4 separate regions of the Homo sapiens genome follow, and regions 2, 3 and 4 are each linked to region 1. The links come from fine-mapping of genetic effects on plasma protein levels. Region 1 holds a variant in brackets. A gene starts in each other region. All regions are shown on their forward strands. Region 1 overlaps SLC33A1 (solute carrier family 33 member 1). Region 2 holds the start of IL6ST (interleukin 6 cytokine family signal transducer). Region 3 holds the start of VWA1 (von Willebrand factor A domain containing 1). Region 4 holds the start of TIMD4 (T cell immunoglobulin and mucin domain containing 4).

What was found. PIP is the posterior inclusion probability: the model's chance that the variant is causal. Protein levels are from antibody-based Olink assays in UK Biobank. Linkage for the fine-mapping came from a reference panel and not from the study's own genotypes, which makes the PIPs less certain.
Region 2: it holds the start of IL6ST, and the variant in region 1 is fine-mapped to the plasma level of the IL6ST protein (UK Biobank, PIP above 0.99).
Region 3: VWA1 starts here. The variant in region 1 is fine-mapped to the plasma level of the VWA1 protein (UK Biobank, PIP above 0.99).
Region 4: it holds the start of TIMD4, and the variant in region 1 is fine-mapped to the plasma level of the TIMD4 protein (UK Biobank, PIP above 0.99).

The regions. Positions count from the first base shown.
Region 1 is chr3:155,826,396-155,831,543 of GRCh38, forward strand. SLC33A1 (solute carrier family 33 member 1) reads right to left here. Exons shown (of 6, transcript NM_004733.4): 5 at 3,293-3,508; 6 at 1-1,982. The coding sequence ends at 1,815. Among named protein-coding and RNA genes, the nearest start is that of C3orf33, 23 kb to the left of the region's middle. The variant C/T (reference allele first, on the strand shown) is at 1,940.
Region 2 is chr5:55,993,502-55,998,649 of GRCh38, forward strand. IL6ST (interleukin 6 cytokine family signal transducer) reads right to left here and starts at 1,462. Exons shown (of 17, transcript NM_002184.4): 1 at 1,283-1,462. IL6ST-DT (IL6ST divergent transcript) reads left to right here and starts at 1,666. Exons shown (of 2, transcript NR_102755.1): 1 at 1,666-2,053. RefSeq lists cis regulatory regions at 230-2,548, 1,242-1,915, a silencer at 1,193-1,672 and an enhancer at 1,504-2,015.
Region 3 is chr1:1,432,352-1,437,499 of GRCh38, forward strand. It overlaps VWA1 (von Willebrand factor A domain containing 1), which reads left to right and starts at 3,339. Exons shown (of 3, transcript NM_022834.5): 1 at 3,339-3,470; 2 at 4,576-5,133. The coding sequence starts at 3,398. It overlaps LOC107985729, which reads left to right and starts at 882. Exons shown (of 4, transcript XM_017003066.2): 1 at 882-937; 2 at 1,612-1,720; 3 at 1,845-2,051; 4 at 2,185-3,198. The coding sequence starts at 882. The coding sequence ends at 2,799. LINC01770 (long intergenic non-protein coding RNA 1770) reads right to left here and starts at 2,222. Exons shown (of 2, transcript NR_125996.1): 1 at 1,837-2,222. RefSeq lists enhancers at 18-761, 2,250-2,993, 2,253-2,312 and silencers at 2,098-2,392, 3,139-3,508, 3,267-3,456.
Region 4 is chr5:156,961,070-156,966,217 of GRCh38, forward strand. It overlaps TIMD4 (T cell immunoglobulin and mucin domain containing 4), which reads right to left and starts at 2,157. Exons shown (of 9, transcript NM_138379.3): 1 at 2,072-2,157. The coding sequence starts at 2,129.

The DNA of each region.
Region 1 (5,148 bases):
AAAAAAAAACTATGTTTGAAAGTATATATAATTTGTAATAATATACACGGGAAGAAATAAAAGGTTATTATGGCAATCTGAGTTTCTTAATCCAAAAATTAAAAATCAAAACACATTTCATATGTAAGAGTTAAGTGGTTTTTTTTCTTTATTCAAGTAATCATTTAGACTCTAATACATGATAATGGACAACCATGTGACAAAGTACTGTAGTGTATGGTTTGGTGTAGCCTCCTTGCCTCTAGGATGGGATTTTTTCCAGGTGATTCTTCAGGATCTGACATCGATGCCCAACACAGGCTTTCCAATGGCAATGCATGAGTTCTAGAGGTCACTGCCCCATCTTTCTTCAGGTGCTGTGTGCCATTTTCTCCCACCCATTTTATCCTCCATTACTTATAAAAACCCCACTCTAAAATTCAACCTATGTTATAAAATTAACAAAATCAGGAGTTAGTACACATTTTTCCACAATGATAAAATTAAGACTCATAATGTACTATCTTGTTTCGTCTAACTTTTGGAGGATTTATATAATCTCTAAAGAGTCAGAGTAATACATAACACAAAACATGCAAAGAACCTTATCACTGGGTGTATGTAATACGCTGGGAATTGCTAAAGTACTCAAAAGCTTAATTTTCTTGGAATAGCAACTGTCCACTGAAAACTATAGTATTCAAACAAAAGGTTATGTGTTAATACATGAAAATACAGTACCTGATTTGGCATAAATTGTGAGATCTTTTTCACTAGTAAAGTGCTTAATTAAGAAACATTTTTCCACTATTAGATTTAATTTGTCAAAGGCACAAAATATCTTTGTCTCTCTCTTTAAAGTATTAGTTTTTTAAATTATGGTACTGCCCATTTAAATTTTACTTAATCAGAAAGCTTTACTGTTTTTTTCTCTCAGCAATTAAAAAAAAACTACTTGAAGAAAAACATTTAATTTTTATTTTCAAAATGTTGCCATAAACATACATACAACACTGAATTTGATCCCCTCCATTGGCTGTCTGTGTGCCAGGAAGCACTTGTGACAGAAAACATATATAAGCTTAGGGTAAAAGTTTATAAGGAATCAAAATATCTTCCAAAAAGAGGGGGTAGGGGCAAGAGGAATCAATAAGTTTAAAAATCATAACTTTCATTTTATAAAAAATAGTTTGAATAATTTTCTTATAAATCTTTAATGCTTACAAAAGCAGGAAATACATTTAAAATAGTCTTTTTAACACAGATTCATTTGTACAATGTGGTCATAAGAAAAATAACTAAAATGACATTTCAGTAGTCTATATTCTTTTCTCAGCAAATTCCACATAAAATTTAACTAATTTACAATTCAAAATAAGATTTTAACTGCCAACAATGTCAGACTAGTTGTGGTTAGTACCTGAATATCAAGCTCTTCTCCATTTTATATATTGTACCAAAATTTTAAATACAGCTCAGCAGTGATAGGTACTAATAACAATACCTGACTACATGGTTACCACCCGTGACTACTGCATTGCAGCTTAAAACATGCTTTGGTCAGTAAATTTAAAAGATATACATCAAATAACAAGGCCAGAAAAGTTGTTTTAGAATTTCCTGACCTTAAGTAAACTTTAAATACATTGACAAGGCAAAAAAAAAATATGATCAAATATACAGAAAGGTTTCTATTTTTTCAACCATTTGGCATTTTATATTATTAATTTCGCTGTTTAAAATAATATTTTATACTCCTGTGCACTGATTATCATTGCTCTCCGAATTAAAACTAAACTACAATTACCTTGCTAGAATGTCCAGTAGCATATATATTAATTGTTCCTTTTGCATTTCCACGAAGATGATCCTTCATCCTGTAACTTTTTAAATTTTGGACCAAGAAAGAACCACCAACCAAATCCAATGAAAACACAAATAATGGACTCCACATAATAAC[C/T]ATCCAGGGCTGTAACACATGAGCCACCCAGTTTTTTGCAAAGCTGTAAAAATAAAACTATAATAAATACTCCACAATTTCAAAATGAAAGTATTTAGCAATTAACATGCTTCTACTTTATAAAGAATAAAAATATATTTTTCTTAAAACATTTCAGTATTTCACTGAATTCCAATGACAAAATATGTTAATGTATCTTAATCTCTCTAATGCTACTAACAGGATTAAAAACAATTTTCAGTTCTTGCTGTAAACAATACTCATTTTCTTTTTTGAGACACGGTCTCACTTGTGGCCCCGGCTGAAATGCAGTGGTGTGATAATGGCTCACTGCGGTCTCTGGCTCCTGGGCTCAAGCAATCCTCCCACCTCAGCCTTGTGAGTAGATAAGACCACAGGCGTGCACCACCATGCCCCATTAATTTCTACATTTTTTGTAGAGATGGTGCTTCACCATGTGGCCCAGGGTGGTCTTGAACTCCTGGGCTCAAGCAATCTGCCTGCTTCAGCCTCTCAAAATGCTGGAATTACGGGTGTGAGCCACCATACCCAGCCGAATATGTTTTTTTTTTTTTTTTTTTTTTAAGAGACGGAGTCTTGTTCTGTCGCCCAGGCTGGAGTACAGGGGCGCGATCTCAGCTCACTGCAACCTCCGCCTCCCAGTTCTAGCAATTCTCCTGTCTCAGCCTCCTGAGTAGTTGGGACTACAGGCACACACCACCCCGCCCGGCTAATTTTTTGTATTTTAGTAGAGATGGGGTTTCACCGTGTTGCCCAGGCTGGTGTCAAACTCCTGAGCTCAGGCAATCCACCCGCCTTAGCCTCCCAAAGTGCTAAGAATACAGGCGTGAGCCACTGCACCTGGCCCGATTATCTATTTTCACGATGCAGCTTTCACATTCGGAAATGTGAAGAAATTTCCAGTCCATCTACTCTAGAAGTAGACAAATACCACTTTGAAAGAATTTATCAACAAACCACTCACTATACAGGTTTAGTTATCACTGTTATAGGAATAGCCAATGGACATTCCCTTTTTCTATCACTACAAAACTTAAGCTATTAATTATGCATTTATATAGTGCCTGCTGTGTAGGACAGTGATCGTCAAGGTGGGGGAAAGAGAGATCGCCTCTCCTTTACTGAGAAACGCCTTTAAGGGAACTAGTCTTGCTGATTTGAATGATTATAACCCTCAGCCTTGATGTGAAAGAAAATATATATGTAGATTTCTAAACCAGAACCTATGGACAGATATGATTTTTAAAAAAGATATAGTACTTCTAGAGACAAAACAAAGATATTAATATCTTAGTATTAGCTTAATGTTATCTAAAATTAAAACATACTTACCTCAACAGCATCAGGTGTTCGACAATTCTGGTTTGATGCTCCTACACACTCTTTTACTGTGAGGGGATCTACAAGCCAAAGAGCTACTGTAGAAGGCCAGTTTCCTCCCAGATTGGACACGGTATTTAAAAGGGTCATGTATGTTCCTCCAATAAGTGGATCACTAACCTTTGCATTGAAAGCCATTATAGAAACATACATGCTGTACACTGTAACCTACGGAAAAATGTAAAACATCTTTAGTATGATTATAAAGCTTATAAAGCTACAGTCTAAATTAAGAACATCAAAGTCATAAACCTGAAATTAATTTTCATGGTATTTATTGAACTCAATTCAACAAATACTTATCAAGCACCTACTATAGGCCAGGCTTTAAGATCACAGCAATACAGGCCGGGCGCGGTGGCTCATGCCTGTAATTCCAGCACTTTGGGAGGCCAAGGCGGGCGGATCACAAGGTCAGGAGATCGAGACCATCCTGGCTAACACGGTGAAACCCTGTCTCTACTGAAAAATACAAAAAAAAAAAAAAAATAGCCGGATGTGGTGGCAGGCGCCTGTAGTCCCAGCTACTTGGGAGGCTGAGGCAGGAGAATGGCGTGAACCCGGGAGGCGGAGCTTGCAGTGAGCTGAGATCGCACCACTGCACTCCAGCCTGGGCGACAGAGGGAGACTCAGTCTCAAAAAAAATAAATAAATAAAAATAAATAAATAAAAAAAAAGATCCCAGCAATACAAAGATGTGACCTTGGTCCTTCTGTGACATTGAAGAATTTATTCTAGGCTGGAAAATGGGGAATAAATAATTATAAATACAGGAAGTACTGTAAATAGAAGTGCACACATTGTGTTACTGGGGCATAAAGATAAATGAGAGATTAATTCTACCACAAGTAGTCAAGAAAGACTCCACGGAGAAAATGTTAGATGAGGTGGCACTAAAGGATACATAATGCATACAGCAAAATGCAAAACCTCATATTTGTACTGTACCTAAATATGTATCATATATTGCATGTGTATATATACATATTTATATGTATGCATTTATTACATATATAAATACTCAAATATTTAAAGAAATAGGAATATATATATTTTTCTCCTACATATACACAAGAAAAGTATTTCAAAATTTATGTGACAAACTGGAGAAAAACATCCTTAAGAGGCAAAAAGTACTTAAAAGGCAAGAATTAACCTTTAATTTAGAAAGATGGAAACAAACTGTGTTTCAATAATGGTATTCCTTTGAATAGTGTTTTTGGGGGTGTTCACAGAAAAAGGAGTTCCAAAGTCAAATAAGACTGAAAGACACTAACTTACACAAAATTGAAAAGGTTCCTTTCATTGTATGCCTTTTGAAATATTTACAACATACACTCCTTGAGGGCAGGGATTTGGGCATGATTTATTAAGTTATATTTCAGTACTCAGAATGGTTTCTGGCAGGGAATAGGTGTTCACTTAATATTTGTTGAAGAAGCTGGGTGCGGTGGCTCACACCTATAATCCCAGCACTTTGGAAGGCCGAGGTGGGCGGATCACCTGAGGTCAGGAGTTCAAGACCAGCCTGGCCAATGTGGTAAAACCCGTCTCTACTAAAAATACAAAAATCAGCTGGGTGAGGTGGTGCTCATCTGTAATCCCAGCTACTTGGGAGGCAGAAGCAGGAGAATCACTTGAACCCGGGAGGTGGAGGTATCACAGTGAGCCGAGATTGTGCCACTGCACTCCAGCCTGGGCAACAGAGTGAGACTCTGTCTCAAAAAAAAAAAAAAAAAAAAAAAAAAAAAAAAAATTTGTTGAAGGAATCATTAAGGCACTACTTACAGAAGGCTTATGTCATACAT
Region 2 (5,148 bases), not on the chromosome of region 1:
TATTATATTAAATTAGGTGGCAGCAGTATTTATAATAATCTAAATTGCCTGTGAGAAAATTAAACTGGTATTGTCAATACATACTTAAAATAAGAAAAAAATCCCACTACAGTCTGTCCTTTTTGACACTTTCTCCTTCCTGTAATTTTTTTCTTTCACTCAAGATTAAAAACAAACGTTCAAGATTATCCCTAAAGAGAAATAGTTGGAAAGCACAATTTAATAGCAAGTTGGTTCTATAAATGTAATATTTCAGTTCATAGTTCAAAAATACTTCCAAATAGGAATTAACATGAATTTAAGAAATTAACATAATGGCACACAGCTAAACTGATGATCTGAGTCCGTAATTTCAAATTAAGAGTTGTTCCAACTTGAAGCTGGCAGTCATACACAGTTTAAAGGGTTTGTTTACAGCACTGTCAAAAGCAAATACCACAATCTTTCAGAAAATTCACCCTGGCATTCTAATAACTAGTTATTTTAAGGCAGTATAATTGTTGAAATACTTCACAAACTAAGCCAAAATGCGTTTCCTTCTGAAGGCAAAAAAAAAAAAAAAAAAAAAAGGTGACGTCTTATTTTTAACCTGTGATTTTTTTTTTTTTTCAGTTTCGGATTATGAAATAAAATGCTGTTCATCCACTGAAGAACAGACCCTTGCTTCCTGCACTATCTTCAAAAGTTTAGGTCGGAGGAGGTAAAATTTTAAAAACTGATTTGTTCTCCTTGGGATACAGTGAGATGTGGAATTCGTTAGGAATGATAATTATTAATAGAAAAGATCAAAAGAAGGAAAGAAACGTTAATAGTGTTTATAAGCATTGTGAACTTTCAACAAAGCTGAAACGTTACGATTTCAAGATGAAAAAACGGCTTTGGGGAAGGGAAATCCACCTCGAGAATGAAGACAAGTGCGGAGCGAATAGAATTTCAGGGGAGATGAAAAGGGGATTGGGAAAAACGTGGGATCTGGTAACAAAAAGGGGGGTTTGTTCTTGAAGGGCGTTCTGCGGGGCGGGCGTTAAGAGGGGTGCGTGCGTGCGCCTGGGTGAAGTTTGTACTCAGGGCTGCGATAATCGAGGTGACAAAGTTGTGGAAGTAGAATTCGGAGGTCCGGGAGCAGGAAGGGGAAGGAATGTGGGGATTTCCAGGCTGGGCTGACAAGTTCCGGGCGCTGCTCTCAGGGGGAAGGGAGGTCTCCTCGAGTGCCAGATAGCCCGTCCGAAACCACCGACACTCTAACTCCAGCTACGCGACCCAGCACCCGGCCCCTCCTCACCTCAGGCCGCGCCGCCTCGACCCTCCGCGTCTCCACAGCGCACGAACCCCTTGGCGCCAGGCTGGGCCAGACCCGTCGGCCTGGCAGGCGCGGCCCCCGGTTCAGCTGCGCCGGGGCGGCCCAGCGCGACTCCGCGGGCCTTTTGGCTGCTCGCCCCGGCTCCGGAACACTGTCAGATCCTTCTCCGCAGAGGTAGCGCGCCACCCCAGTCCCGCGGCGGGGCGGGGCGCTCCCCAATCCCGCCCAGCTGCGCCCCCGGCCGGCCAACGCTGCGCCCCGCCCCCTACCGGGACCTAGGCGCTGATTGGCCCCTGAGAGACCCTTTGCGCCCAGGCATTGGTCCAGTGGCCGCCTGTCGACGAGGGGGCGGGACTCCGAGGGGTAGCGATTCCCGTAACGCGGCTCTTCGCGTCCCGGATTCCGGTGGCTGCGTCCGCGTCGCCTCTCCCAGACTAGATCGAAGGGTTCCCCCCACCTCCCCTCTGTGGGCGGAAAGAGCGGAATGTTCCATTTTTCTGTGGAATAACGGGGTCATGAACTGGAGCCCGGGTGCTGCCCGCCGCCCGCTGCCCCCGCCCTCCCTTCTCGCCAGGGCGCCTGCGGCCTCTCTTCGCGGCCTTCCCCGAGGGACTCAGAGCCGCGAGGGACCGCCTAGCTCCCTTGGGGATGGGGAAGGCGTGGGAGCCTCTTGGGGAAAGTGAAGAGCTCGGTGGCCGTGACTCCGCACGAGACTGCGGCAGATTGTGGCGGCGGCTTCTCTCCAAGACTTACGTAAACGAGCCTTGCCACAGTACTTTTTTAAATTAGTAAATGAGTTTGGGTGCGATTGATCAGTGAGCCCCAGAGGTGGTGGCCCACCAAGCGACTAGTGTTTCTTTGCGGTTTGTACCTCCCCGTTTATGATAAAAAATACCGGGTAAAAACCTATTCATCCCGCCTCCGCCCCCCCCTTTCCCTCAGAAAATGGACCTCAAGGCTCATGATGTTTGTTTCTCCCCAAAGGAAGATGAGAATCTTGAGTTAAAAGATAAGGCATGTGCGTGCGTGCGTGTGGGGTGTGTGCGTGGGTGTCTGTAAAAGTAAACACCCAAAGGTAGAGGTTTTTGTGGAAGAATGAGAGGATATAGGAAGGAAATAATGGTTTAATGAACTTAAATTATATCCATAAATTAACAATTATAAAGTTCTTCATTATATTGAGGATTCAGATAGAGTAAAACATAGATCGAATTTTAATCTCTTAGTTGTTGATCAGATAATTTATAAAAGGGCAAAGTGGGCCTGCTAACGGAGTCGCAGGCAAAGTAGATGGTGCTGCAGCTGATGTGTTCAGCTCTTGCTCCTCCCTGTCATCCTATATCTAACCTATAGATTGTGACCAGATTCTGTTCTAGCTTTGCCATTTAGAGGGGTGTTTATTTTAAAACAAATTTTTATAAAAATTTGTTAAATTGAAAATTTTGTATAGATCCAGGAAACTTGATTTTTTTGTTGTTGTTCACAGTCTCACTCTGTCACCCAGGCTGGAGTGCAGTGGCTGGATCATGCTCACCGCACGTTCAAATTCCTGGGCTCTAGCGATCCTCCCACCTCAACCTCCCAAGTATCTCAGACTACAGGTGCCCCTACAATACCTGGCCAATTTTTAAAATTTTTGGAGAGACAAGATTTTGGTATGCTGACCCGGCTGGTCTTGAACTGCTGGCAACAAACGATCCTCCGGCCTTAGTGGCCTCCCAAAGTGCTGAGATAACAGGTGTGATGCAAAGATGTATTTAGGGGAGATGTATAGTGGTTAAATGTACCCTCTGGTTCTAGATTGCCTAGGTTTAAATGCTGATGCCTCTATTTCTCATCTCTGTGACCTTGGGCAAGTCTTTTCAAATTTCTTCATCTGCAAAATGAGAATAACAATACCAACCTAACAGGATTGTTGCAAGGATTAAATGAGTTAAAATACATACAGTGTTTGGCACATAGTAGGTGCTCTGTAAGTATCAGCTATAATCATTATTGAATGTCTACTCGGTCAACACTTCTGAAATATTTTAGTATCACAACATATATTAAAAATGATGATATTTTGCTGGACGGGGAAGGGCAGGTACACAGAAGTGGATTGATATGTCACAACACACCAGCCTGCCTTGGCACCATTAGGAAAACAAATGACTGAGTTAGTGCTTTTATGGGTGTCTTTTTATTGGCTCAGCTCAGGTCCTGCTCCCAAGAAACTCACATTTTATGGGAGTAGTTAAAGTCTGAGGCCAAAAGGATGAATCAATATTGGAGAAGTATTTTTCAGAGCAACAGGACGGAAGACCTCTGCTGTGCTGGAATTACATGACTTTGCAGATACCTCTGTAGAGTATTGGCCTTGAAATTACGAATTTCAGATTAAGGATTTGTTACTAGAAAGCCTTGTCAAAATGCAAAGGTAAGTAGGGGAAAGTAGTATATTAATGGAGAACTCTCCATTTGTGTCCTGTGACCATTTGAGATTTTAGATATGTCAAGAGCAGGCCGGGTGCAGTGGCTCACACCTGTAATCCCAGCATTTTGGGAGGCTGAGGCAGGCGGATCACTTGAGGCCAGGAATTCAAGACCAGCCTGGTGAAACCCCAACTCTATTAAAAATACAAAGATTAGCCAGGCATGGTGGTGGGTGCCTGTAATCCCAGTTACTTGGGAGGCTGAGGCACGAGAATCACTTGAACCCAGGAGGCAGAGGTTGCAGTGAGCTGAGATCCTGCCACTGCACTCCAGCCTGGGTGACAGAGCAAAACTCCTTCTCAAAAAAAAAAAAAAAAAAAAAAAGAGATTGAGGAAACTGTACAGTGAGAAAGTAACATGAAGGCACCAAAATTACAATTACTTGGGAGTAAGTGAGCAAAGCTTAGGAAATTGTGCCATGGAACAAAGGTGATAAATGTCAAAGACAAACTTTGCCTGCATTTCTAATTCCCTAAATCTGGTGCTGACTAGGATATCCCTTTACTTCCTTGTCTGTGCCCAGTTATGTTTCTGAAATTCTGTGTCAGCCCTGGAATTATCCTCATGTTCTGTATCACCTTAATGATTTCAGCATCCATGTTCATGACTCATTAGCACTCTGACCTCACAATTTCTCATCGTTTTCTTTTCCAATCATCTTCAACTTCACTCTGTATCAGCAACCCACAGATGGAGCCACACCTTCAACCTAGTCATCAATGAAATTACTTCCCCTCCAAAATGCTGGATTGTGAGTTTCCCTCTCTGTACCTACAGCCACCTACCCCCATCTATCTCTATTCTGTGGTCATTCCCATTGAATCTGTAATTTGTCCTCAATGTGACAGCCTGACAGCCAGTCTTTCTTCTCATAGTTTATCAGCTGTTTCCTATCATTTTTTATCTTACTTACCAGTAAGAACCCCCTTTTTTTTTTTGAGACGGAGTTTTGCTGTTGTTGTCCAGGCTGGGGTGCAATGGCACGATCTTGGCTCACCGCAACCTCCGCCTCCCTGGTTCAAGTGATTCTCCTGCCTCAGCCTCCCAAGTAGCTGAGATTACAGGTGCTCACCACCATGCCTGGCTAATTTTTTGTACTTTTAGTACAGACGGGGTTTCACCAAGTTGGCCAGGCTGATCTCAACTCCTAAAAGTGATGGGATTACAGGGGTGAGCCACCGCCCCCCAAGAACCCTTTTATCAACCATTTTAACTGCACTATTCTCTTCAGTTCCCTTGACCTTCAGCTATGTTTACCTTATCAGGCTATTTCCTAACTATTTCCTTTTTCCTTGAGCTATCAGCCCCACCGTAACATTTATTCTTAGTACAGAACCTTGTTTTACTCCCTTAAAATCAAGACCATCATTTGT
Region 3 (5,148 bases), not on the chromosome of region 1:
GACGAACCTCCTGCCCCTGTCGAGGCCGGCAACACCCTCCACCCGGCCACCCCTCCCGAAGGCCCCCAGCCTGCTCTGCCCCTGCAGTCCTGGCGCAGGCCCCTCCTGCCCACCCCACCCTGCTCTCAGCACTCGCGGTTCCTTCTCTCTGCCTGGAAGGCTCTTCCTCGGGTACCCCTTGCGTGCGAGTCCCCAGTGACCCCCTGTTCTCACAGGGAAAACAAGTAGACCGTATCTTTCCTAGCTGTTCACCGCCCACCCTCCTAGCCTGGCAGTGCTGGCCCGGCGCCTGTGTGTCCCCAGCACTGAGGCTGGGGCGCGGCTGTGCCCAGCACACAGACGAGGGATGGATGGACAGACGCAGATGGTGCAGCTCCCACCCCTACCCAGGCTGCTACCCGCCAGGTGTCTACCCGCCACCCCAGCTGCTGCTGGCACGGGGGACTGAGGGGGGTCAGCTCTGGGGCCAGAGGGGCAGGCCTGGGCTCCTGGGAAGTGAAAAGTGACCCCCGAGGCCCCCAAGACCTGTCCTTGACCCCAGTGAGCAGGTTGAGTCTAGGAGCTGCGTGGGCCCTGCTCTCTTGGTGACCCCTGCTCTGCCCCACTTACTGTTGTGGGGTGGGCTCAGGCACACCCCAGAGCAGTGCCTCAGGCCCGCACCGCTGCCCCTCACCGCCGCTGCCCCTCACCGCCGCTGCCCCTCACCACTGCTGCCCCTCACCGCCCCGTCCATCTGCTCCTGTGTGTGCTTGAGTACGTTTGTGAGATACGTGAAAACAGCAACAAAAGGCGCCGGGTGCGGGCCTGGGCGTCCTGCCCTCAGCTCGGGTCAGGGGTGGGGTCAGAGGCCTCAGGAGTTGCCCTTTTACCCAGGGTCAAACATGACCACAGCCAGCTGGGGACAAAAGGCCCTTCATCTTCTGCAGAAGCCTGGATTGTGCGGAGGAGGGAGCATTCCCAAAGGCGGGTGGGGGCAGGGGCGGTGCCCGGGTGACAGCAGCCTCCCCAGCTTCCTGGAACTCTCTCCACCTGCCTGCAGACAGACCGGCAGGGCAGGCTGGCTCCGGGAAGTGAGGCACAGGGACTCCCACAGCCCAGGCCCAGACCGTGGGGGCGGGGTGGCCGCAGCCAAACCAGGCTGCTCCCCACCCCATGGGGCCCCAGGCCACCAGGATCAGACAGGGGCTGTGCCTGCAGGAGGCAGAGGGCTCGGGGCCAGCACCCACTGTGATCTGGCCTGACCCGTCCTTGCCTCTGCCTCTTACCCCGGGCCCTTCTCCCTGGAGAGTGGAGGGTTCCGGCTGTTATATTTGTGCTTCCTCCGGTGTCTGCCTCAAGTCCGGCCCGGGCCCTGACACTGCACCTCTGGCTGACCCCATGCTCTCTGGGACCCTCTGTCCACGTCCCTCCTCCGGGGTGGAGACAGCGGGGGGAGGGCAGGACACAAGAATGAGTCCTGAAGACTGAGGGGCACGGGGAGAGCTGATGGGGAGGGTCTCCTAGCTGGAGGGACTCCAGGCAGAGCCGGGAGCAAGGCAGGTGGCTGAGCTCGGCCCAGGCTGGGTGGAGGCCAGGCCTCCTGTGCCTTCTCCCGCTGATGGCGAGCTGAAGGGAGGAGGGCGGCCGCTTCCTTGAGGGCCTGAGTCACAGCCAAGAAGACCCGCTCACTTTTTCCAGAAGTGAGGGAAACTTCCCCGTCAGCCCTGCAAGGCTGGCTGAGGTGTGACTGTGGCCCGCCTGCTGGGCGAGGGTGGGGGACAAGCGGGCCACTGGCTGTGAGCCTCCCCAGGGTGGGGGACCCTCGGCCCAGCTCCCTGCCTGACTACCTGGACGTGCCTCCGCAGGGTCTGCAGCCAGCTTCCGGTCAGACCCCAGGTCCTCCAGCGGCTGCGGCCTTCAGCGTCATCTCCACGGCAGCCCCTGTGTACTGGGGGCTGGGGGGCCTGGCGAGGCCCCTCGAAGTGGTACAGCTTGCACTCTGGGGACCCAAAGTCCCCCCACCGGGCCCAGGCGGAAGCACCAGGCATTTCTGGTCCCAGCCGAGGTCTGAGGTCTGTGGAGCGCAGCCAGCACCTCCACTGCCAAGATCCCCGGCAGGGGGGGTGGGGGGCGCCGGCGGGGACACAGCTCTCCCTTGTTCCTGCCGCCAGCTCCTCAGCCTCAGCCTGCTGCTTCCTTTTTTAGGCAAAGTCGAGTGCTGGCCGTCCGCACGGCCCCGCGGTGTCTCACCTGCCTGAAAGGGAGGAAGGAAGCCTGTGGAGCCCCATCCGTTCTCCCGCGGCGCATCCTCCAGGAGAGGGTGGGGAAGGAGGAGACATCCTGGCAGACACCCCCCCACGTCCCCCACCTCCCAGCTCTGAGCTGAGGAGGCCCTGGAAGAGGGCCATGGCTACTCCGAGGGAGGGCCGGGGTAGGGTTCTCCTGTCCAGGGGACACTGCTGGCCCAGCCCCACCCAAGCAGGGGAAATCTGCCCTGGGAGCCACTGTCCCTCAGGACGCCCCCTGCAACCAGCCACCTCTCGTCTGGGCCTCACCAAGACCCCAAGACTCAAGAGCTCCTGTCTCACCAGTGGGACCCTCCAGTCCTGCTGGGGGTGTGTCCTGGGTCCTGGAGTCTGGGCCCCTCACTGGGTAGGGTATATGGGTAACAGGCCCAGTGTGGTCCCACTGGACAGGGCCTCAACCAACCATCTCCCACTCCCATGCCTCTTCCTCCAAGAAGCCCAGGTGGCGTGGGTGCTTCGAGTCTCTCTCGAATTCCTGTCTTCTGTCCCCTTTCAAGCCACTGTGTCCTTGTAAGTTCCACCCCATGGTCCTTCCCATCCCTGCTGGTCAGTCCCTGGGATACATGTCCTGTTACTCCAGACACCTATCCGCCTCCAGCGCGGAGGCCAAGGCGAAACCACGGTCTGGACGTGTTTTTTTGGTGCCACCGCCAGCCCCTGGGGTTCTCTTGGGCCTGGCTGCTGGGACCCCAGCACCCAGAGTCACGGCAGTGGTGGGCATGGGGAGGGCCTAGCCTGGTACCTCCCTGCTCGGCTCCCGCGGCTGGGGGTCGGAGAGGGGTGGAGAGCGTGGGCCGCACAGCCTCGGCCGGGAGAGGGAGACTGGAGTGTGTGTGTGTGCGTGCCTGCGCGTGCGTGCCTCGGTCGTATCTCGGCTGGTGCTGCGTGTCCCTGCGTGTCGGGGTCCGCTCGTGCGCGCCTCTCCGGGGTCTGTGCGCGTGGCCCTCCGCTCGCGCCGGAGGGCGTGGGCGTGGCCTCGGCGTGGGTGTGGCCGCTCGGGGAGGGGCCTCCCGGGGGCGGGGCCGGCCTGGTCCGCGCGGTGACGCGCCCTGCAGCCCCGAGCGAGCGAGCGAGCGAGCGAGTTGCCGAGCGCGCCCCGTCCCTCGCGCGCGATGCTCCCCTGGACGGCGCTCGGCCTGGCCCTGAGCTTGCGGCTGGCGCTGGCGCGGAGCGGCGCGGAGCGCGGTGAGTGCGGCGGGCGGCCGGGCCGGGGCTGGGGCTTCTGGTGACCGCTCTGCGCCGCTGCCCGCGCAAGGCCGTCGCTGTCCCCTGCTCCGGACGGGCGGGCGGGCTGGGAGGCTGCGGGAGCCGGGCGGGGGCGCGGGCGGAGCGTCCTGCTCACCTGAGGCTGGCGGCCCAGGTGCTCCAGGCGACACCGTCCGTGAGCGCCGGGGCATAGGGGCCGTCCCGGCCCGCATCTCTGCGGGATCGCGGGCCTGGACAGGAAGAGGGAGATGTCTGTCAAGGGGGCACCCCTGCCTCAGTTTCCCTACCCTTGCGAGGGCCCTTAGTGGAGGGATGGTAGGGAAGTTGGAGTCGCCCCACCGCACTGGGGAAAACCGCAAGGCCGGGACTAGAATTGAGGCACGCTGGTGCCCTGGCTTGGTGGGGAGGGGCGGTGTAGGGGGCATCAGCCTCCACCCCGGAGGTGCCCGGAGGAAGGGGGAAGCCTGCGAGGGGCTGTTCCGGCTTTCAGGCTGCTGGGGGTTATATCTTGTTGTGTGAGTCCAGGTGGGCTGGAGGATGGAGGCCAGGGGAGGGGCCACCATCTAGTAAGCGGGGTCTGGGCTCCAGCCAGGCCATCCGGCGTGGTCATTGCTGTGCCTCCGACACCTTCCCCTGCTGCTGTGTGCATGCCCAGGGTGCCTCACCTGCAGGCTGAGCTGCGTGGCTGAACTCCAGCCTCAGGCTGCTCCTCTGAAAGCCATGCCTGGAGGGAACAGCCCCACGGCTCAGGCCTGTCCTGGGGGCCTAGGCCAGGACTCTTGGCTCCACCTGCTTGCAGGGTCTGTGAGGAATGGGAAGGTGTGGGGGCTTGGAGCGGAGAGTCGCCCTCTCACAGATGGGATAACACAAGCCCAGAGAGAGCCCTAGATCCCATGGCCAGTGTGCAGTGAAACCCCCAAAAGTACAGGCCTCTTGCTTAGAGTTCCTCTTTCCCCCAACCTAGGACCTTTGGGAGAAGGCAAGCATCCACTTAAGGAAAGCTGGGGCCCTGGGGGACCCTGCCTTGCTGTGGGGCTGTCTGGGGGGCCCACACCTGAGGCTGAGCATTCCTCCTTTCCCCCAGGTCCACCAGCATCAGCCCCCCGAGGGGACCTGATGTTCCTGCTGGACAGCTCAGCCAGCGTCTCTCACTACGAGTTCTCCCGGGTTCGGGAGTTTGTGGGGCAGCTGGTGGCTCCACTGCCCCTGGGCACCGGGGCCCTGCGTGCCAGTCTGGTGCACGTGGGCAGTCGGCCATACACCGAGTTCCCCTTCGGCCAGCACAGCTCGGGTGAGGCTGCCCAGGATGCGGTGCGTGCTTCTGCCCAGCGCATGGGTGACACCCACACTGGCCTGGCGCTGGTCTATGCCAAGGAACAGCTGTTTGCTGAAGCATCAGGTGCCCGGCCAGGGGTGCCCAAAGTGCTGGTGTGGGTGACAGATGGCGGCTCCAGCGACCCTGTGGGCCCCCCCATGCAGGAGCTCAAGGACCTGGGCGTCACCGTGTTCATTGTCAGCACCGGCCGAGGCAACTTCCTGGAGCTGTCAGCCGCTGCCTCAGCCCCTGCCGAGAAGCACCTGCACTTTGTGGACGTGGATGACCTGCACATCATTGTCCAAGAGCTGAGGGGCTCCATTCTCGGTATGCGGGAGGAGG
Region 4 (5,148 bases), not on the chromosome of region 1:
TCATGCACCATGTTGGAAAGGTTTCTGCACATACAAAGAGCCAAGAGGTAGAAGAAAAAATGTTTAACATTGCTAATCACTGGGGAAATGCAAATCCAAACCACAATGAGGTATCACTTCATTTCTGATAAAATGGCTACTATCAAAAAGACAAAAAGCAAGCATTGCTGGCGAGGACGCAAAGAAAGAGGAACTCTCGTACGCTGTTGGTGGGAATGTAAATTACTACAGCCATTATGGGAAACAGTATGGTGATTCCTTAAAAAACTAAAAATAGAATTACCATATGATCCAACAATCCCACTACTGGGGATATATCCCAAAGAAAGGAAATCAATTAAAGAGATATTTACTCTCCCATGTTTATTACAGCACTATGCACGATAGCCAAGATATAGAAGCAACCTACGTGTCCATCAATGGATGAATGGATAAAGAAAATGTGGTATATGGCCAGGTGCGGTGACTCACGCCTATAAGCCCAGCACTTTGGGAGGCCGAGGTGAGTGGATCGCCTGAGGTCAGGAGTTCAAGACCAGCCTGACCAATATGGTGAAACCCCGTCTCTACTAAAAATACAAAAATTAGCCAGGCATGGTGGCAGGCGCCCATAGTCCCAGCTACTTGGGAGGCTGAGGCAGGAGAATGGCGTGGACCCAGGAGGCAGAGCTTGCAGTGAGCCGAGATAGAGATAGTGCCACTGCAGTCCGGCCTAGGCAAAAGAGCGAGACTCCGTCTCAAAAAAAAAAAAAAAAAAAAAAAAAAAAGAAAGAAAAAAAAAAAGAAAATGTGGTATATAAACACAGTAGAATATTCAGCCATAAAAAAAGAATGAAACTCAGTCATTTGCAACAACATGGATGGAAACAGAGTTTATTAATATTGTGTTAAGTTAAGCTAGGCACAGAAAGACAAATATTGCATGTTCCCACTCATACATGAGAGCTAAAAAAGTTGATCTCATGAAAGTGGAGAATAGAATGATAGTCACTGGAGTCTACAAAGGATAGGGGAAAAGGGGTATGAAGAAAGGCAGGTTAATGGGTACAAAAATACAGTTAGTTAGAACATGAGGAAAAAGGGAAAAAATACAATTAAATAGAAGGAATAAGTCCTAGTGTTTGATAGCATAGTGGGGTGCCTATTGTTATTAATAATTTCTTGTGTATTTCAAAATAACTAGAAGAGAACATTTGAAATGTTCTCAGCACAAAGAAATTTAAATGTTTCAAGAAATGAATATCCCAACTACCCTGATTCGATCATTGTACATTGTATGTATATATCAAAATAACACATATGTAGCCCATAAATATGTATAGTTATTTTGTATCCATTTAAAAAAAAAATGGACTTTTGTAAAACTGCAAGGGCCATTCAATATTATCTTGTCCTAGAAGCACAGATTGTGACAACTGGTCATTTAAAAAGCCAGGTCTCTCATTTCAAATATGGGAGAGCCAGAGCAATTTAGACATATTCCCAGTGTCAACAGTTAGTGCCCGAGACGCAGCTGCAGCTCAGGCCAGAACACTTGGCTCTATACCACCAGGATGCAAAGAACTTCACTGGCCAAAACTGAGTGTGTACACTTGCATCATCCAAAACCCAAAAACAACGTGCAGAAAAGAAACCTTACATAAAGCCTCACCCCAGCAAAACAAAACAAAAAGCAAACACTTCTAAAAACAGAGGGAATGATAAGAATTATCACAATTCTCACCAGAACAAATTCTCCTGGCTTATTGATTATATGAATAACACCCATAGAGGAAATCTCTTTTCCCCAATTTATCTGACCACTTATTTCTGTGTCTCTTCTTCAGTTGCTGTTTCCAATATAAGCCCAAATTACCCCAGCCTAAAACCCCCAGACCAGTCTCTGGATAAACCTCTGTGTAACAAGGCAGGACAGAGACCCTCCACAGAAGGAAGCCTGGTAGGGAGAGGGGAGGGATGCAGAAATGAAGTGAGCTTCTGCTTCACTGAGGCCCAAACCAGTGCATGGAAATCCATCACACAATAGCAAGTCCTCTGGAAACTTCTACATAGAAGGTTTCAGAACACTTACTCAGGTAAAGCCACCAAAACTCAATCATCAGCCAGAGAATGAGAGGTTCTTTGGACATTTTGACGGTTGACCGGACCCAGGAGTCTGTCTATCTATCCAAAGCCCAACCTCTTATATCCCAGTTAATGCTGACAGGGTGGGACTCTTTAGTTTCATTTCTCTTTTTGCCTCATAATCTTCCCTTTCTCCTGTCCTACATGGCTTCCCCCAATGGGCGATGCATGATGAAATGTGCTGAGCCCTTTTCTCCTGGTGACTAGTGTGTGTGTGGAGGGATGGCGTGGACATACTTGTGCTTCTTTGTCCATGTGTATAGTGGGTTTCCTATATGTGCACAAGCATCCATGCATGTGCTGGTGCAAATATGCCTGTATAACCTGTGCATGTGCCACAGTTGTCCCAACTGCTGTACAGCCTGTCACAAAGTGCAATTGACTCTCCATACTGGCAAGTGTTTACATGTAGATTCCTCATGGGGCCAAAGCATAGTTAGACTGAAAGTTGCCTCCATTCCCATTCTAGGTTCTCCCTCACCCTGTCCCCTGGCCTCCTTGCCCTAATAATGGAGAAAGAAAAGTGAGGACAGGCACAGTGGCTCACACCTGTAATCCTAGCACTTAGGGAGGCCGAGATGGGAGGATCGCTTGAGGCCAGGAGTTTGAGACCAGCCTGATCAACATGGCGAAACCCCATCTCAATTTTTTATTTAAAAAAAAGTTTAATAAAAAAATTAAATTTTTTTTTAAGTTTTAGGAAGACACTGAAGCCCAGAACTTCCTGATTCCAAAGCTTATGGTTAATCACTACATTGTCCTTTGACCTGTGACCGTTTGGGTAATGTATCCATATGATGAGGCCTACCTGTGGCTAGCTCCTACTTAGTACCAGGAAGAAAATATAAGAATTCACAAATGTTCTAGATTTTTAAAAATCCTTAATTGATTGTAAACAGCCAGCAAACCTCAAACATTCAACATTGCTTCTACTGAAGGTATCAGTGAAAAATCTAAATATCAGGTGAGGTTCTAGACCCAGAGAAGCCAGACTAACATGAGCAGGGATGAAAATAACGGGATTCAGAGTGAATCTTCCCACTGAATGCCCACAGAACCAAGGGATCCTTTCCCCATTCTATCCCAGGAAACTGGAGGATTTAATCTCTGGATAAACTAAGTGGTCCCAATAAAACATTTTCAGATATTTATAGTTTTGAGTGTTCCCCAACAAAACCACTCAACCCTCCTTCAATAAGTTCATCAGTGCATGAGCCTCAGCCATGCATGCAGAACTGTTAATGAGTCTTTAGTGTCCCTTTCAGATATGAACAGATAACCAGGGATCATCAGACATTTGAGGAAAGCATTTAACATAAAAAAGAGACAAAAATAACAGGGAGAGCTAAAGAGAACTTCAAAAACTTTTTAAAAAGCTAATATTTTCTCAGAAAGAAAGATTTTACATTCATGAAAAAGAACATAGACATTATAAAAATGTCCCGAATTTTATGGAAGTTTTGAAAAATAAAGTTAAGAAAATTTGTTAGAAATTATAACCATCTACAAAGTCAAAGGACTAGGATTGTTTCAGAACATTAAAAAAGAAAATAGAGGAGAGGAAATTACTAAAGAAATAATAAAGGAAAGACTCTCGTAACTAAAGGAGATGACTCTCAGTATTGAGCGGGTCAATCAAATGCTAAACTCAATGAATAAAAATATCCCCAAAAAGCAAGACATTATCATGTAATATGAGAACATCAGACATAAAGAAAAGATACGAAAAGACTCCAGAGAGAAAGAACAACATATTGCACTGAATGGATTTGGAAATAGAATGGCATTGTTGTTCCAAACAACAAAGCTAGAAAATAATGCACGAATGCCTTCAAAATTCAGAGGGAAGGCCGAGTGTGGTGGCTCACATCTGTAATCCCAGCATTTTAAGAGGCCAAAGTGGGTGGATCACTTGAGTCCAGGAGTTCCAGAATAGCCTGGGCAACATGGTAAAAACCTGTATCAGCCGGGCGTGGCGGCTCACGCCTGTAATCCCAGCACTTTGGGAGGCCAAGACGGGCAGATCATTTGAGGTCAGGAGTTCAAGACAAGTCCCAGCAACATGGCAAAACTGGTCGCTACTAAAAATACAAAAATTAGCTGGGTGTGGTGGTGCATGCCTGTAATCCTAGCTACTTGGGAGGCTGAGGCAGGAGAATCACTTGAACCCAGGAGGCAGATGTTGCAGTGAGCTGAGATCATGCTACTGCACTCCAGCCTGGGTGACAGAAGGAGACTCCATCAAAAAAAAAAAAAAAAAGAGGAAAAGAAAATCTATATCTGCCAAAAATACAAAAAATTGGCCGAGTGTGGTGATGCGCACCTGTGGTCCTAGCTACTCCAGAGGCTGAGGTGGGAGGATTGCTTGAGCCCGGGAGGTGAAGGTTGTAGTGAGCTGAGATTGTGCCACTGCACTCCAGCCTGGAAAACAGACAGAGAACCTGTGTCCAAAAAAAAAAAAAAAAATCCAGAGGAGAAATTTAATTTCAACCTAGAATCCTACTCGCAGACAATCTATTTCTCAAATGTAAGATCATAATAAAGGCCTTTTTGGACATAGATTCAAAATTTACTTACTATACTTCCTTTCCTAGAAGTTATGGAAGAGAAATCTGTAGCAAAACGGGAGAAATAACCAGGAAACAGAAAGTCATGGGGTCCAGAAAACATGACATCTAACTCCAGGGAAGAAAAATTTCACAAAGAAAACTGCAGAACAGACCTAGAGGGGAACTGTTTCACTGCATCACAAACCACCCCAAAACCTAGTGCCTGAACAATGTCAATGTACTTTTCATGATTCCCTGGGATGACAGTGTTCAGCTGGGTAGCTCTCACCCAGTGACAGTGGCTATCTCAAGACTAGATTGGACTATTTGTCCAAGATAACTTTCTCACTCACATGACTGATCATCCAAAATGACACTTCTAGCTGGACTTGTATGTCTAGCAAATTAATAGAATGACTAGAAGAGATAGGGGCTGGACTGACAACTGTCTCTCTCCACATGACCTTTCTACATG